3 separate regions of the Homo sapiens genome follow, and regions 1 and 2 are each linked to region 3. Evidence: fine-mapped expression QTL. A gene starts in region 3. Each other region holds a variant in brackets. All regions are shown on one strand. Distances are between the middles of the regions. Region 1 overlaps FAM167A-AS1 (FAM167A antisense RNA 1). Region 2 overlaps FAM167A-AS1 (FAM167A antisense RNA 1). Region 3 holds the start of TDH-AS1 (TDH antisense RNA 1).

Evidence for each region. PIP is the estimated chance that this variant, and not a neighbour inherited with it, causes the effect.
Region 1: its variant is fine-mapped to the expression of TDH-AS1 in pancreas (GTEx, PIP above 0.99). The same link has a PIP of 0.9 or more in stomach.
Region 2: its variant is fine-mapped to the expression of TDH-AS1 in amygdala (GTEx, PIP 0.97).

The regions. Positions count from the first base shown.
Region 1 is chr8:11,388,381-11,390,880 of GRCh38, reverse strand. All of the region lies in intron 2 of FAM167A-AS1 (FAM167A antisense RNA 1), which reads right to left. Among named protein-coding and RNA genes, the nearest start is that of FAM167A-AS1, 21 kb to the right of the region's middle. The variant C/T (reference allele first, on the strand shown) is at 1,092.
Region 2 is chr8:11,414,592-11,417,424 of GRCh38, reverse strand. The region is part of intron 3 of FAM167A-AS1 (FAM167A antisense RNA 1); the gene reads right to left. Among named protein-coding and RNA genes, the nearest start is that of FAM167A-AS1, 48 kb to the right of the region's middle. RefSeq lists enhancers at 1-433, 357-586, 434-935. The variant C/G (reference allele first, on the strand shown) is at 1,293.
Region 3 is chr8:11,346,148-11,348,962 of GRCh38, reverse strand. It overlaps TDH-AS1 (TDH antisense RNA 1), which reads left to right and starts at 1,447. Exons shown (of 2, transcript NR_147705.1): 1 at 1,447-1,666; 2 at 2,323-2,815. It also overlaps the pseudogene TDH. RefSeq lists a silencer at 1,300-1,579 and an enhancer at 1,134-1,757.

The DNA.
Region 1 (2,500 bases), 42 kb before region 3:
GCAGGGAGCAGCTCCATCTCAGGGTTAGGGCATCGGGCATCTGACCAGCTTCTCTCAGCTCTGCAGCCTTCCCAGAAGTGCACACTCTGGACATGCGGTCCCCCTGGGAGGTGGAGTCAAGTCCCTGCTCCAGAAGTTTCCCTACCTGGGAGCAGCCTCCAGGCCCCTCTGCCTTTGCCCAGCCTCTGGCTTTCTGGGAAAAAATTTTGTTCATCACATTGCACGTTCCTCAGAGAAAAAGTATTGGCAGCCCTTTGCAAAAGTTTCTGTGTTGTTCTTCTTTTCAAATGTAAATTCTGTCCTTATGGGCCTGAGAAAGAGACGAAGCACCATAGATACTGGTCACTTCCAGGCCTTTTCCAACCAAGAGTCCTTCTCCTGAGGATGTGGAGGGGGCTCTTCTTTGAAGCTCCTTTTGGGGCACAGCTTCCCAGTTAAGCCTGTTGTCAGTGTCTCCACCTGTTTCACCGTGTGGCACACACAGCACATGACACTCTGCGTGCCACATGCCGCGATGCAGAAGGCCGCCGCCCCTGAGGCTGTGAGCGCACCTGGGGTCCCCTGGGGCCGAGGACCTCCGTACCTCACACACTCATTCCGTGTTCACAGCTCTGCAGTCGAGAAGTTCTGGATGGAGACTCTCACCCTCCCCTCCAGGACACTCACTGGCCACACATTCTGCCAGAAGGACAGAGGGCATTAGTAGAAGCCATCAGAATAGCCTGGTGAGACTGAGAAGGCAAGTGTCACTGAGGGGAGCCCAGCAACATTAGGGCTTTGAGGTGACCTGGAGATGGGGCTGAATTCTGAGCTGAGTCCTCGGAGCACAAGCCCGCCCTGTGTCTCCGAGAGGGTGCCCTACCTTCATCTCTCTCTCTCTCCATCCTCCTCCCACCCATCCCTGCTTCTCTCTCAGCCAGAATTGTTCATCACATTGACCCCTCCCTTGTTCCCCCACCTGAGCCCCAGGAGTATGTTCTCTGTGTGGGTACAGCCTGCTGTGAGCTGCAGCAGCACAGCAATGGGCAGAAGTTCCTGCCTCTGAGGCCCTGGCAGCCCGTACTTCAAAATCTGCCCCACTTGAACCAGTG[C/T]CTGTGAATGCCAGGGGGTGAACACTTGCTCGCTTGTTCTGCTCACAAGCAGTTTATGGGCAGGGTTGTCAGGCAAAGCAGCAGACCACTTGGGGTCCAGGGTCCTCTGCTTTCTGACCAGAGCTGAGGACCTGCTTGTCCCTGCTCCCTGGGATACTGCCGGTCGGGAGCTGAGTCACATCCATCGCACCTGCCCTCATCCAGTCTGAACAGGTGCCACCCAAGCTGACCTTTTCCAAGAATAATCAGCGTGGCCTCCCTCTCTCTCTTCTGAAACGGGTTTTACATAGAATGAGAAGCGGGGCCGTCTTTAGGTCTCTGAGTTTCCTGGGTGTGATTTTGCTGTCAATCACTTCCAGGATAACTTGCCCATCTGGCCTGATGGGCCTTCCAGAATGCATTCCACCACTTCTAGTCCTGCGGCTCACCTTTCTAGTCGTACCCACATACACAAGTGGCTTCTTTCTCCTGGTAGTGTGTGGCAGGAAACCTTGCAGCTCTCCCTAACGTGACATTTCCCTTTAAGCTCTGCTCACACAGGACTGAAGACCTCCGTGGTGTTGGCACCACATAGAATACCCGAACCTGCGATGCTCAGCTGGTCTCCATCTCTTACCCAGCAGTTCAGCCCACCCTGTCACAATCCAAGGATGTTTGCCAGACACAGGTCCAAAGCCCCCTCCGCAGGTGCTGAGTCTGCATTCTCGCCCATGCCTATGGTTCTAGAGGCACAGGGGCCCTGCAACGCTCCCTACCAGTGATGAATAAGAAATGTCTGGGGGACTAAGACATCAGACTGAAGAAGGGTGAGGAACATTGAGGAACGGTGGATGTTCGCTACAGATCTCAGGGAGCCTGAGGCAGGAGGGAGATTATGCCCTTGGATCCGCTGCCCTCAATAACCACTGCAGGGCCTTGAGAGGAGAGAAGATAAGGAGAACAAGCCAAAGGGGCCCGTCCCGGCGAAGGCTACACAACTGCCAGCCCGGTGATAACATGGCATTCGACCCCCTTCCTGAGAATGGCTGCCAGCTTCCCGGGCCCATGGCTGTGTTGACTCTGGAAAGAGGGAGGATGCTATCAGCTCACAAGGTCTGAGCCTCAAGACCCGAGCAGAGCGGCCGGCCGATAAGCTAAGTGGGGCCTGTAACTGCTCCAGCACAGGTGCACGACCCACCCTGTTTTCCTCTGGCACGAGCACTGCTGGCTTGTCAAAGACTGCCCTGCTCTCAGGCCTGCTGCCCTGGGCAGGTGGTGGGAGTGAGATGGCAAGCTTGTACCCTCACACTAGAGCTGTCGCCCTTTAGGTGGACATCCTTTAGCATCGTGGTTCTTTATCCTTTGGGGTGGAAGGGGACCCTTTGAGAATCTGATGAAAAGACAGCACCCTCTCCTCTAAAAAAAAAAAA
Region 2 (2,833 bases), 68 kb before region 3:
CGGGATTGCCCATTTGAGGCTGTGGTCATAAATGTGGGGTGTGTCCAGCAAGCCTGGTGGAGTGATTGATTTTTTCAGCAATATTTAGAAGTTCCAATACAGACAAAGACCAGGCAGACAGTGGGAGATAGGATTTGCCAAGCAGGTGACAGAGAACGGAAACAGCAAAAGTGAATGTTTTTTGCAAAGGAGCAATGTTAGTGTTAGACTGAGTCAGGAGGGAAGGACGACGAGAGGAAACGGGCCGGGAGAGCCAACGGAGCTGGAGGTAGGTGCATGGCCAGTGGTCTCCACGTGACCTGGGGGTTGCTAGGGTGAGTCCAGGAGAGATCAAGACTGAACAGGTGGAGACCAGAGTATGGGGAGAGGGGGAGCGACAGTTCAGATGTGGTGTGGCTTCTTCATTCAGAGACTCGGCCTGCTGCCACATTAGCTGCTGGTGCCCTGCTGAGCGTGGCCAGGTGCCCTGACCCATGGCTGGTGACGTCAAACTGTGGCTTCCTTGGCCTCCCAGAGATCTCGTCTCTCTTATGTTTGGAAAGGGTGTAAACTCCGTTTACACACACCCTTTTGACTTCTCAACAAGACCAGAAGCACTTCCCACTGGCTCCTTCTCCATGTCTAAGCCTGAAGTCTGTGGCCTAGACGACTTGGGGAAGGAGGCAGGCAGAAGAGGAGGAAGTTGGCAGTGACCAGAGCAGACAGGCCTGTGGTAACCAGACCCTATCTGATGGGAGCTGCTCAGCAGATTGAAGGTTTCAGACAGGGCTGTTTTTAAGTACCCCGTTCACAGGCTCAAAGCAAACAGCAAGGGAGACAGCTAGGCGGTCTCCAAAGGAAATTGATTAAGGAAGAGAAACCTCAGATGCGTTGGAACATTTATCATTTCTTTGAGGATACATGCTTGACGTGATGGATATTAATTACCCTGATTTGATCACTAGACACGGAATGCACAGAAACATCACTATATACCCCATAAATATGTACAATTATTATACATCAATTTTTTAAAAATTAAAAGGGAAAAAAGGTGTTTTAGCTAGGCATGGTGGCTCATGCCTGTAATCCCAGAACTTTGGGAGGCTGACATGGAAGGATTGCTTGAGCCCAGCAGTTCAAGACCAGCCTGGGTAACACAGAGAGACCTCATCTCTTTTTGTTTGTTTTTTTGAGACAGAGTCTGGCTCTGTTGCCCAGGCTGGAGTGCAGTGGTAGGATCTCAGCTCACTGCAACCTCTGCCTCATGGGTTCAAGCAATCCTCCTGCGTCAGCCTCCTGAGTAGCTGGGA[C/G]TACAGGTGTGCACTGCCACAGCTGGCTAATTTTTGTATTTTTGTAGGGATGGAGTTTCACCATGTTGGCCAGCTTGGTCTGAAACTCTTGACCTCAAGTGATCTGCCTGCCTCGGCCTCCCAAAGTGCTGGGATTACAGGAATGAGCCACCATGCCCCACCCTTGTCTATTTTTTATTTTTTAATCATAAAAAAATGAAGGTGTTTGCAGGCTGTAAGAATCCGTCATCCACCACTCGCTGCCAGGAACATTCCCGCCTGCAAGATGGTTACGAGGAAAGTGAGGCTTGGTGCAGCTTTGCAGGACAGTAGGGTATTTCCTGAGCCATTTGTTAAACAGAAAGCCCTGCACTGCTCATTCTCTTACTCCCTTCTCCATGCAAAGACTACTGAAGCTAAGGGGCATTTGCTAAAGAACAGCCAGAGTCCCAAGGGAAACCTGAGTTAGAGATGACAAGCCACACTCCTTGGCTCGCTCCCGGAGACTCACCCACCCAGGTGGTCCTGGCCTAGGCCTGGAGGGAGGGCTTTCAGGGAGCTCACCTCTGCTCCCCCACCCACTGCACTCTCGGCCTCATCTGGGAGGGGTACCTGGGCCTGGAGCAGGACAAATGCGTCTCCAACCTGTCGCCTCTGCACCAGTCTGGGTTTGGTCAATAAAGTGGAAGCCCCCTCAGTCTTCCATGAAGGAAAGGACCTGATTCAGGAACTAAGGGTTCACAGAACCCTTAGAAGGGCGGGGACAGGCAGTGTCCGGGAAGAGGCTGTGAGAAGAGGTGACTCACAGAGCTCATCCCCAAAGTCGCCCGGATTTCACCCAGCTCAGCAGGGGGCCTTTTTTGCACCGCTGTAGCTGGAACGGCTATGGAAAGCTGGTGATTCTCAAGAGGTCTGTCCACACCTCTGCCTGCTGCCACCACCGGGAATAAAGCTTCACTTGCTATTGTGCACTGAATTATGACCCCCAAAAATTCACATGTTGAAATCCTGATCTCCAGCATCTAAGAATGGGACTATGTAAGAGGTAACTAGAGTAAAATGAGGTCATATGGGTGGGTCATAATCCAATCTGACTGACGTCTGCATAAGAAGAGGAGATTAAGACACAGACACTCACAGAGGGACGGCCACATGGAGACACAGGGAGAAGACACCACCTACAAGCTGAGGAGAGAGGCCTGAGAAGGAACCAACCCTGCCAGTACTTTGATCTTGGACCTCCAGCCTCTAGGACTGTGAGAAAACAAATGTCTGTTATTTAAGCCACGCAGTCTATGGTATCTTGTTATGGCAGTCACACCCAACGGGGATATTTGTTTTTCCTCTTTGACCCCTCTTCCTCTCCTCTCTACCCCACCCCCAGCTTTTAAAGCCCCCACCTGGAAGTGACTCATATCATTTCTGCTCACATTTCCTTGGTCTAAACAAGTCAGATGGCCAAACCTGACATCCAAAGTGTGGAGAAGTACCAGCTTAGCCTGGGCCCCCAAGTAGAGGAGAACTGCACTATTTGCAGATGGGATCTTAGTGATTACCTCTCA
Region 3 (2,815 bases):
GACGCATTTTCAAGGCAGTCTGGGCTTTAAAACCTCTGACTCATTACATCATCATCATCACCAATGCATCCTCTTAATAGTAATGATCCAAGGAAAAATCAGGCGCCTGGTAACTACGGAGCGTTGGTGAAGCATCTGCTTTCCTGAACTCTTCTTAAACCCTCACAGCAACCCTGAAGCTGGGACCTTTTCCCCATTGTTCAGAATCCACTGACCCGCCCAAGGTGAGGCAGTTACTAACTACCAAGTGAGGTAGGTCCACCGTGTCCCATACCCTCTACTTCCACCACCCCGACTCTTCCCACTTAAGAGATGAGATCAGATGCCTAAGAAGAGACAAAGAGGAAGAAACACCCCCAGGGCCACGCAGGGGGCACCTTTCCTGGCAGCCTGCACCCCTCCCCAGGGGGAGAGCACGGACCAGCCAGGGGGTCGCGGCCCGCGGCCCGCCTAGCTGTGTGCGCCTGGCTTCTTGCCTCGCCAAATCTCAAGTTTCCGCGTCCTCAGAAAGGGGGCAATCACCATGCCATCCTAATAGACTGTTGAGAGCGTTTAATAAAAGCAGTCAATCTATGAAAAGCACTGTGCAAACTGCGCGGTCAGTGTAAAGGCTCAATCCACATTCGCTTTCTCTCTCTCTCTTTTTTTTTTTTTAAACTCTCTGGGCTGGTAAAGTCTGAACTTTACGTGGGGATGATCTGAAAGCTAGAAAGGATCGAGAAAAATCCCAAAGCTCTAAGCCTGAGCTAGGGAGGGTCTCAGAGGGAGGTCTGACTGCAGACCGGGAGTCTTCTCCTCCCGTGCGCCGCTGCCCGGGACGAGAAACCCGTGGGGCATCCAGGACTAGGACACGAGGTCTCAGCCTGGGCAGGTGGACAAGCTGTGGGGTCCCACCCTCCGCAGGCGATGGCTTCCCAAAGTCTGTACAAACCGGTTTCGCCGGGCCGGCCATGCCCGCCCCTCTTCTCGGCGTGGGAAGCCCTTTCAAAAGTGGAGGGGAGCGAGTGTCGCGCCCTGCCAACCCCGACTGCGCCTGGGCCCTCCCCGCGCCGGGCTCCGGAGCCGCCCCTCCTGACTCTGCGACCACGGCCGGGGACCCTGCGCGCGCCCGGGAATGCAGAGTCTCCAGCGCCGCGCAGGGCTCGCCCCGACCTCGGCCGGCCCTGGGCAACCCGCTCCGCGGCCAGTCCCCACTCCAAGATGTGGCTCGGCTCCCACCTCCGCGGGGGGGAAATGTCGGGCGACCCCCACACTGACCTTCCTGCGCACCCAGCGCAAACTACGAACCCAGAGTTGGAGCTGCCCGCAGACCCCGCGCAGCCAGACCCCGCGCCTTTATCCCGCCCCGCCCCGCCCCGCCCGGCGCACCAATCCCCGGCCGAGGAGGGGCCGCGTGGCGCCGCGGGGGGCGGGCCGCGCACGCCCCCCGCAGGGAGGACTCAGGGACAGTCAGGGCCCCGGGAGAGTCCGCGCGCATCGCCCGGCTCCGCGGCGCCAGCCATGGCGTCCGTGCGTGGCCCCGCCAGGGATGGGGCGACGCGGTCAGAGCCGCACGCGACCGAAATCCGCACTCTGGAGCCGCAGAGCGCGCGGTCTTGCTGTTTAGCGGCTCCCTGGCAAGTGACGTGGGGAAGAAACGCAGGGCGCAGGAGAGACAGCTGGAAAGGTTTGCGGTGTAGCTGGCCCAGGATTGAGGGTCTGGAGGTCGGGTGTTGGAAGACCTTGAGCGAGGCACTTCTTGGCCTCCCCAGCTGGGAGGCATCGCTGAAAAATTAGGTGACCCCCAAGACGGTAGACCAGCAGAGTCAGCGTCACCTGGGCGCCGGTTGGAAATGCAGATTGGCAGGTCCCACCCCCAACCCCTCCCGACTTGCTGAGTCAGCATCTCTGGGGGTGGGGCTCGCGCGCCCCCAGCGGGACGCCGGTGCGCGCAGTAGCTTAAGAAGCTGGGTCCAAGGCGCTGGTTCTCAAACTCCGCTGCATATTGCAATCACCTGGGAGCTTTTTAACCTCCAAACGCCCAGGCTGCCCCCGGACCAAATGACAGAATCTCCGGGGCTGGGGGGGACGGGGATAGAGAAGCCCAGACCTAAGTATTTTTTTAAGCTCTTAAAGCGATTCCAGTGTGCTGTGAAGGTTGGACCCACGGTGTGGTCTCTGGACAAAGCAGCCCCCACTCCAGACCTACCGAACCAGGGAATCTGCATTTTAACAGGATCCCCAAGTGACTTGCAGGCGCCTTCGGTTTGGGAGAAACAACTCTAAGGTGTCTTCTGACATTAACAATCTGTGATTTTGTGAAATCTGTCTCGTTTTGTTTAGCGGGCTAGCCAGGCCCCGTTTTCTTCAGCTTCTCCCTTGACTTGATCCCTGAAGATGGCTCTGCCTCTGGCGCCCTTGAAATATGTCGACTAGGTCATGATCACCGTGCATTCTGCTCAGCGTAGTCTCCCCGCCTGAAGTGTTATTAATGCAGTCTAAAATGACTACGGTTCTGCGGTCTACCGAACTGCCCACGGAGGTAGGGGTTTCAGACTTTTGGCATCTCAAGAGACTTGAGATTACCGAGACCACGATACCCCCAGAGACGTGACGAGATGGGATCAAGGCCACGGGGGACCAGAATGCTGACCCAGGCAACCTGTCCCTGCCTCGCTGCCCTTTGTAATACTCCTTATCATATCATGAGGAGCTATTTTCCGTTCTCCACAAACTTGGTGGTGGATGGAAGAGGATATCAAGCTCACCTTGAGTGGGATTGAGGTAGGAGGCGGGGCTCAGACACCAGACCAGATTGAGGACAAACTAAAGCAAG